2 linked regions of the Homo sapiens genome follow. Each later gene encodes a partner of the first gene's protein in a complex. Each region holds a gene or a part of one and is shown on either strand. Other genes may lie near its edges. The genes, in order: NUP160 and NUP98.

The links.
Region 2: NUP160 (region 1) and NUP98 share a complex: the UniProt entries of both Homo sapiens proteins name them as parts of the nuclear pore complex.

Annotation. Positions count from the first base shown.
Region 1 is NC_000011.10:47,779,781-47,782,477, forward strand, and holds part of NUP160 (nuclear pore complex protein Nup160), read right to left. Parts: intron 668-2,697; coding exon 563-667; intron 1-562. UniProt on the Homo sapiens protein: Functions as a component of the nuclear pore complex (NPC). Involved in poly(A)+ RNA transport.
Region 2 is NC_000011.10:3,717,314-3,721,144, forward strand, and holds part of NUP98 (nuclear pore complex protein Nup98-Nup96 isoform 1 precursor), read right to left. Parts: intron 3,513-3,831; coding exon 3,399-3,512; intron 2,238-3,398; coding exon 2,099-2,237; intron 1-2,098. UniProt on the Homo sapiens protein: Plays a role in the nuclear pore complex (NPC) assembly and/or maintenance. NUP98 and NUP96 are involved in the bidirectional transport across the NPC. May anchor NUP153 and TPR to the NPC.

The sequences.
Region 1 (2,697 bases):
GCGGTGGTGCAATCTTGGCTCACTGGAACCTCCGCCTCCTGGGTTCAAGCGATTCTCCTGCCTCAGCCTCCCGAGTAGCTGGGATTACAGGTGCCCGCCACCATGCCTGGCTAGTTTTGGTATATTTAGTAGAGATGGAATTTCACCATGTTGGCAAAGCTGATCTCGAACTCCTGACCTCTCAGGTAATCTGCCCGTCTCAGCCTTCCAAAGTGCTGGGATTATAGGCGTGAGCCACTGCGCCCGGCCTATCATTGCTGTATTTCAAGTACCTGTTTACCTTGTAGGGTCTGCCCTACCAAATTAAAAGCTTTAAAGGATGGACCGACTGCTTGCCATTTGTCTCTGTATAATTAACACTTACACAGTTCCTCATTATGTTTTCTTGATCCTGTTACTTAGATCCTCTGCCTTATCTATAAAGGGACTGGGCAGTTTGTTAAGGGCCAAAAATAGGCTTTTGTCTTCCCTTTCTAATCCCGGAGAACTGAAGATCAAGCTGTAAGGTGTAACTGCTAGTGCAGGGGCTTACACAAGACGTCTCATGAAAGGGCTGACTTACTGCGATGTTGTGACTGTTGGCACTGTTCTCTCCCAGAGCTTGGAGAAGCTGATCAATAGAGGAGTATGGAAGCCACACCATTGGGGCTGTTGCGGACAGTGGAAACTAAAAGGAAAATGTTTATTTGAAAACAGTCTGCAAAGTGTACCATTTCTTCTGGGTAGTTGCTTTCATAGGACTCTGTAGAATAAAATACCCTTTTTTTTTTTTTTTTTGAGATGGTCTTGTTCTGTCGCCCAGGCTGAGTGCAGTGGCACAATCTCAGCTCACTGCAACCTCCGCCTCCTGGGCTCAAGCAATTCTTGTGCCTCAGCCTCTTGAGTAGCTGGACTACAGATGTGCACCACCATGCCTAGCTAATTTTTTTATGTTTATTTTTAGTAGAGATGGGGTTTCACCATGTTGGACAGGCTGGTCTCAAACTCCTGGCCTCAAGTGATCCACCTGCCTTGGCCTCCGAAAGTGAGCCACTGTGCCCGGCAAAATAAAATGCATTTTTTCCCCCAACCACAAGAAACTGTGTGTATACATGTGCATGCACACAATGGGAACCCTCTTTTCTCCAACTGGGAAACTTGTCATTTTTTTCGGTTAAATATATTTAAAAATTCATGTCGGCTGGGCCTGTAATTCCAACGTTTTGGGAGGCCGAGGTGGGCGGATCACAAGGTCAGGAGTTCGAGACCAGCCTGGCCAATATGGTGAAACCCCGTCTCTACTAAAAATACAAAAATTAGCCAGGTGTGGTGGCACAGATGTAGTCCCAGCTGCTCGGGAGGCTGAGGCTGAAGAATTGCTTGAACCCGGGAGGCGGAGGTTACAGTGAGCCGAGATCATGCCACTGCACTCAAGCCTGGGCGACAGAGCGAGACTCCGTCTTGGAAAAAATAAAAAAATAAAAATAAAAAATAATTTCATGTCAACTTTCTTTTTTTTTTCAGACAGGGTCTCACTCTGTCACTCAGGCTGGAGTGTAGTGGCATGATCATAGCTCACTGTACCCTCAACCTCCAGGGCTCATGTGATCCTCCCACCTCAGCTTCCCACATAGCTGGGACTATAGGCACGCACCACCATGACCAGCTAATTTTTTTCTATTTTTTGTAGATAAAGGTTCTCACTATGTTGCCAAGGCTGGTCTTAACCTCTGGGTTTAAACGATCCTCACACCTTGACCTCCGAAAGTGCTAGGATTACAGGTGTGAGCTATTGCACCTGGCTGATTTCATGAGGGTTGAAGCTGTAGTTAACTACACCTATTTAGACCTGGCTCTTCTATTATATTTGCCATCTGTATGAGCCTGTGATAACCTCTGAGCCTGTTCCCTCATGGGTTAAAAAATAGAAAATTAAAACATTCCTTCATAAGGCTGCTATAAGGATTAAATAAAAAAATGCTTGTAGAGACTTAACACAGTCCCGGCACACACACAATACCATTTTGTTTATCTCTCTCCACTGAATCCTAACTAATGCCATATTATTTTGATAGAGAAAGATGAAATTCCTATTTTATAAACAGGAGACTAGAGATTCCTAGAGTGTCAATATTTAGTTGTATAACTACAGATAGTAAAGGTTAAATACACTAACATATAGTTCAATTTACTCTCAGATTCTCACCTTACATAGCATGATAATAAAAAGAAATGCCTAGGCCGGGCATGGTGGCTCACATGGGTAATCCCAGCACTTTGGGAGGCCGAGGTGGGTGGATCACTTGAGGTTAGGAGTTCCGAGACCAGCCTGGCCAACATGGTGAAGCCCCATCTCTACCAAAAATATTAAAAAATTAGCTGGATGTGGTGGCAGGTGCCTGTAATCCCAGCTACTCAGGAGGCTGAGGCAGGAGAATCACTTGAACCCGGGAGGCGGAGGCTGCAGTGAGGGAGTAAGTGGAGGCTGCATCACTGCACTCCAGCTTGGGCAACAGAGCAAAACTCAGTTAAAAAAAAAAAAAAATATATATATATATATATATATATATATATATATATATATATATATATATATATGCGCCTATACCGATGTTCCTCAACTTATGGTGGGTTTGTTTTCCAATAAACCCACTATCAGTTGAAAATATCATAGGTTGAAAATACATATAATACATCTAACCTAATGAACATCACGGC
Region 2 (3,831 bases), about 44 Mb from region 1:
TCTAACTCATGAGTATGGTCTGTCTTCCATTTATCTGTGTCTGGTGTACTTTCTTTCAACCATGTTTTGCAGTTTTGTATAAACAAGTCATTTACCTCCCTGGTTAAGTTTATTTGTGTATATTTTATTCTTTTTGATGCTACTATATATATGAAATGTTTTCTTAATTTTTGTTGTTAGTGTATAGCAGTGCAACTGATTTTTCCATGTTGATTCTGTATCCTGTAACTTTGTTGAATTTGTTTATAACTAGTAAGTTTTTTTGTGTGGCATCTTTAGGGATTTCTACACAAGATGTCATCAAAGAACAGAGATAATTTTACTACTTTTCAAAACTGTATTAACTTTTATTTTTCTTGCCTAATTGCTCTGACCAGGACTTGCAGTAGTATATTTGGGAAAAGTGGCAAAAGCAGGCATCCTTGTGTTGCCTTGTCTCACAGGAAAAGCCTTCTGTATTTGAGTGCCTTTATTATGAAAGAGTGTTGGATTTTGGTAAATACTTTTTCTGTATTATGATGATGATGATGATGTGGTATATTCCTTTATCTTGTTAAAGTGGTATGTTTCACTGACTTTTGTATGTTAAGCCATCCATGCATTCCAGAATAAATCTTTTGGCCATGATGTGTAATCCTTTCAATACGCTGTTAAATTCTGCTTCCTAGGGCTCTGTTGATGACTTTTTCATCAATATACTCATCAAGTGGTCTGTAGTTTTCTTTCCTTGCAGTGTCTTTGGTTACTGAATAAGGTAACGCTTGCCTCATAGAATGAGTGTGAAAGTATTCCCTTCTCTTCAATTTTTTGGAAGAGTCTGAGTAGGACTGGTGTTATTTCTTTAAACGCTTAGTAGAATTCACCAATGAGGCCATCTGATTCTAGGTTTTTCTTTTTTGACAAGTTTGTGATTACTGAGTCAATCTCTTTACTAATTATTGGCCCGGCACAGTGGCTCATGCTTGTAATCCCAGCACTTTGGGAGGGCGAAGTGGGCAGATCACCTGAGGTCAGGAGTTCAAGACCAGCCTGGTCAACATGGCAAAACCCTGTCTCTACTAAAAATACAAAAATTAGCTGAGCATGGTGGCGGGCACCTATAATCCCAGCTACTCTGGAGGCTGAGGCAGGAGAATCGCTTGAACCCAGGGGGCAGAGGTTGCAGTAAGCTGAGACTATACCACTGCACTCCAGCTTGGGCAAAGGAGTGAAACTCTGTCTCAAAAGAAGAAAGAAAGAAAAGAAAGAAAGAAGAGAAAGGGAAAAGAAAAGAAGCGGAAGGGGAAAGGAAAGGAAAGGATCGATTGATCTGCTCAGATTTTCTATTTCTTCCTGATTCAGGGTTGGTAGGTTATGAAGATAAATAATTTTCACTACAGCCCTTTCACTTGACTAAGATATTAGAAGCTAGGATCTCACACTAAAATAGAGAGTTAAGTATAGCCACAGCAGAAACAGGAATAAAGCAAAATACTATTAAAAAGAGTTTTTGAAATTAGCAGTTGGACCCAATAAAATCAGGGAGGCTGGGCAGCGTGGCTCACACCTGTAATCCCAGCACTTTGGGAGGCTGAGGTGGGAGGATCACTTGAAATCAGGAGCTCAAGACCAGCCTGGCCAACATGGTGAAACTCTGTCTCTACTAAAAATACAAAAATTAGCCAGGCATGGTGGCGGGCGCCTACAATCCCAGCTACTTGGGAGGCTGAGGCAGGAGAATCGCTTGAACCCGGGAGTCGGAGGTTGCAGTGAACTGACATCATTCCACTGCGCTCCAGCCTGGGCAACAAGAGCAAAACTCCATCTCAAAAAAAAAAAATAATAATAGTAAAATGAAATGAAATGAAATAAAATAGAATAGAATCGAATCCAAGGAATGTAAAAAAATGAATTAAAAAATAAAATCAGGGAAAAGGAGTTCAAAATCACAGTATAGCATTTCTTTGCCATTTATACTTTTAAATCAAAGTAGAGACAATAAATGTACTCTATAGTAAGGAAAGCAAGCTACAGAAGCATACATCTAAACACATTTATGTTTACAGAAAAAAAAATTGTGATTTAGCTGATAATTTTCTGTATGTACATAAACTCTTACCTATTTAGCCCTTCACCCACAGGTGGTTTTTGGTTATCATCTAAGTAGACAACTACTTCTTTCCTCCGGATATGCACAATATCATCCAAATTTAGATTTGTCAAATTCACATCTCCTTCAAAATAGATTGAACCATAACCTATAAATCAGAGCAAATAGTTAAAAATTCATTCTGTATGAAGGCAAATACCTACTTTACAACTATAGTGATTAAACAATCACAAGGAGAAAGCAGTTTTAAGTATTAGTATTTTAAATAATTCAGCAATTCCTAGACTGGTAAGAATGGGGACTTAGGGAGAGTAACTTCAATTACACTGTTATCTGATTTAAAATCTGCATTTTTCTTTTCTTTTCTTTTCTTTTTTTTTTTGGCAAGGTCTTGTTCTGTTGACCAGACTGAAGTGCAGTGGTCCTGTCTCACTGCAGCCTGAACCTCCTAAACTGAAACAATCCTCCCACCTCACCCTCCCAAGTAGCTGAGACTACAAGCACATATCATCAGGCCTGGCTCATTTTCTTTACTTTTGGTAAAGGTGAGGTCTCACTATGTTGCCCAGGCTGGTCTAGAACTCCTGAGCTCAAGTGATCCTCTCACCTCAGCCTCCCAAAGCGCTAGAATTACAGGTGTGAGTCACTGCGACAGGCCTAACATCTGCATTTTTATAAAACTCCCATTAGCCTCAAAACAACCTTCTTAAATCTCTTCCCATTTATCTATAATGACGCTATATAAACAAACCTTCGCACTTGGCCTGGCATATGGGTTAAAATGCCTGAGCTCTTTTTAATACAATATAGCACAGTGGCATTTCCCACAAGAAAATTATCAGTAATAATAACATGAAGTTCATGCTAAGTGTTATACATCTCTTGCCTATTATTCAATTTTCTCAGAAGTTCTTGGTATTTCCAGTATTTTCTTTAATTACAGAAAATTAAAATGACCCAAATAGTTACTAGCACCAAACAGGTATACCTAAGCCCAAAGAATATTATATGGTTCTGTGCTTCTCAGGAGGCTGAGGCAGGAGAAATGCTTGACCCCAGGAGTTGAGATCTGCCAGGCAATGTAGCAAGACCCCATCTCAACAGAAAAAATAAAATAAATAAAAATAAAAAAATTTACATGGTTCCAGTCTTTCTTGTTTTGTTACTTATCAATCAAAGTATTTAAGATTCAGGCCAAGGTGGGCCCAAATGTAGGAAAATGAAGATTCAGCTATCAAAAGCTTCCCCTAATTACAAAAATAAGGTGCAACTCTCTGGCTTAATCACTAAGTGCTAAACTCACACTTACCTTTCCGACCAATAGTGAAATCAGAGACAATGCACTCTCCTTTTTCATTGGTAATTTTAGCAAGGTCATCCATAGATGGAATAGTATAGTAACCAACCTTAGTGAGAATAATACCTGTGACAAAAAAAAAAAAAAAAACAGAAAAAAAAATAACCTGAAATAATCAGCAACTAAATCATCATATAAAGAGAAAATATATCAGAATGAAGAATTTTCCAAACTACTTTTCTACCAAACATGATTCCTAGGAGAAGGGGTGTGTGAGTGTGTGTGTGTGTGTGTGTGTGTGTGTGTGTGAAAAGCTTCATGGTCAAATAGGTTTGAAGAACATACATATGATACATCAAAGAGTCTAAAACTTACAGTAAATAGCCTATTAAACTCTGCTTAACCTCGTGTTTTTCCAGATTTAACCACAGAACATTATTTTCAA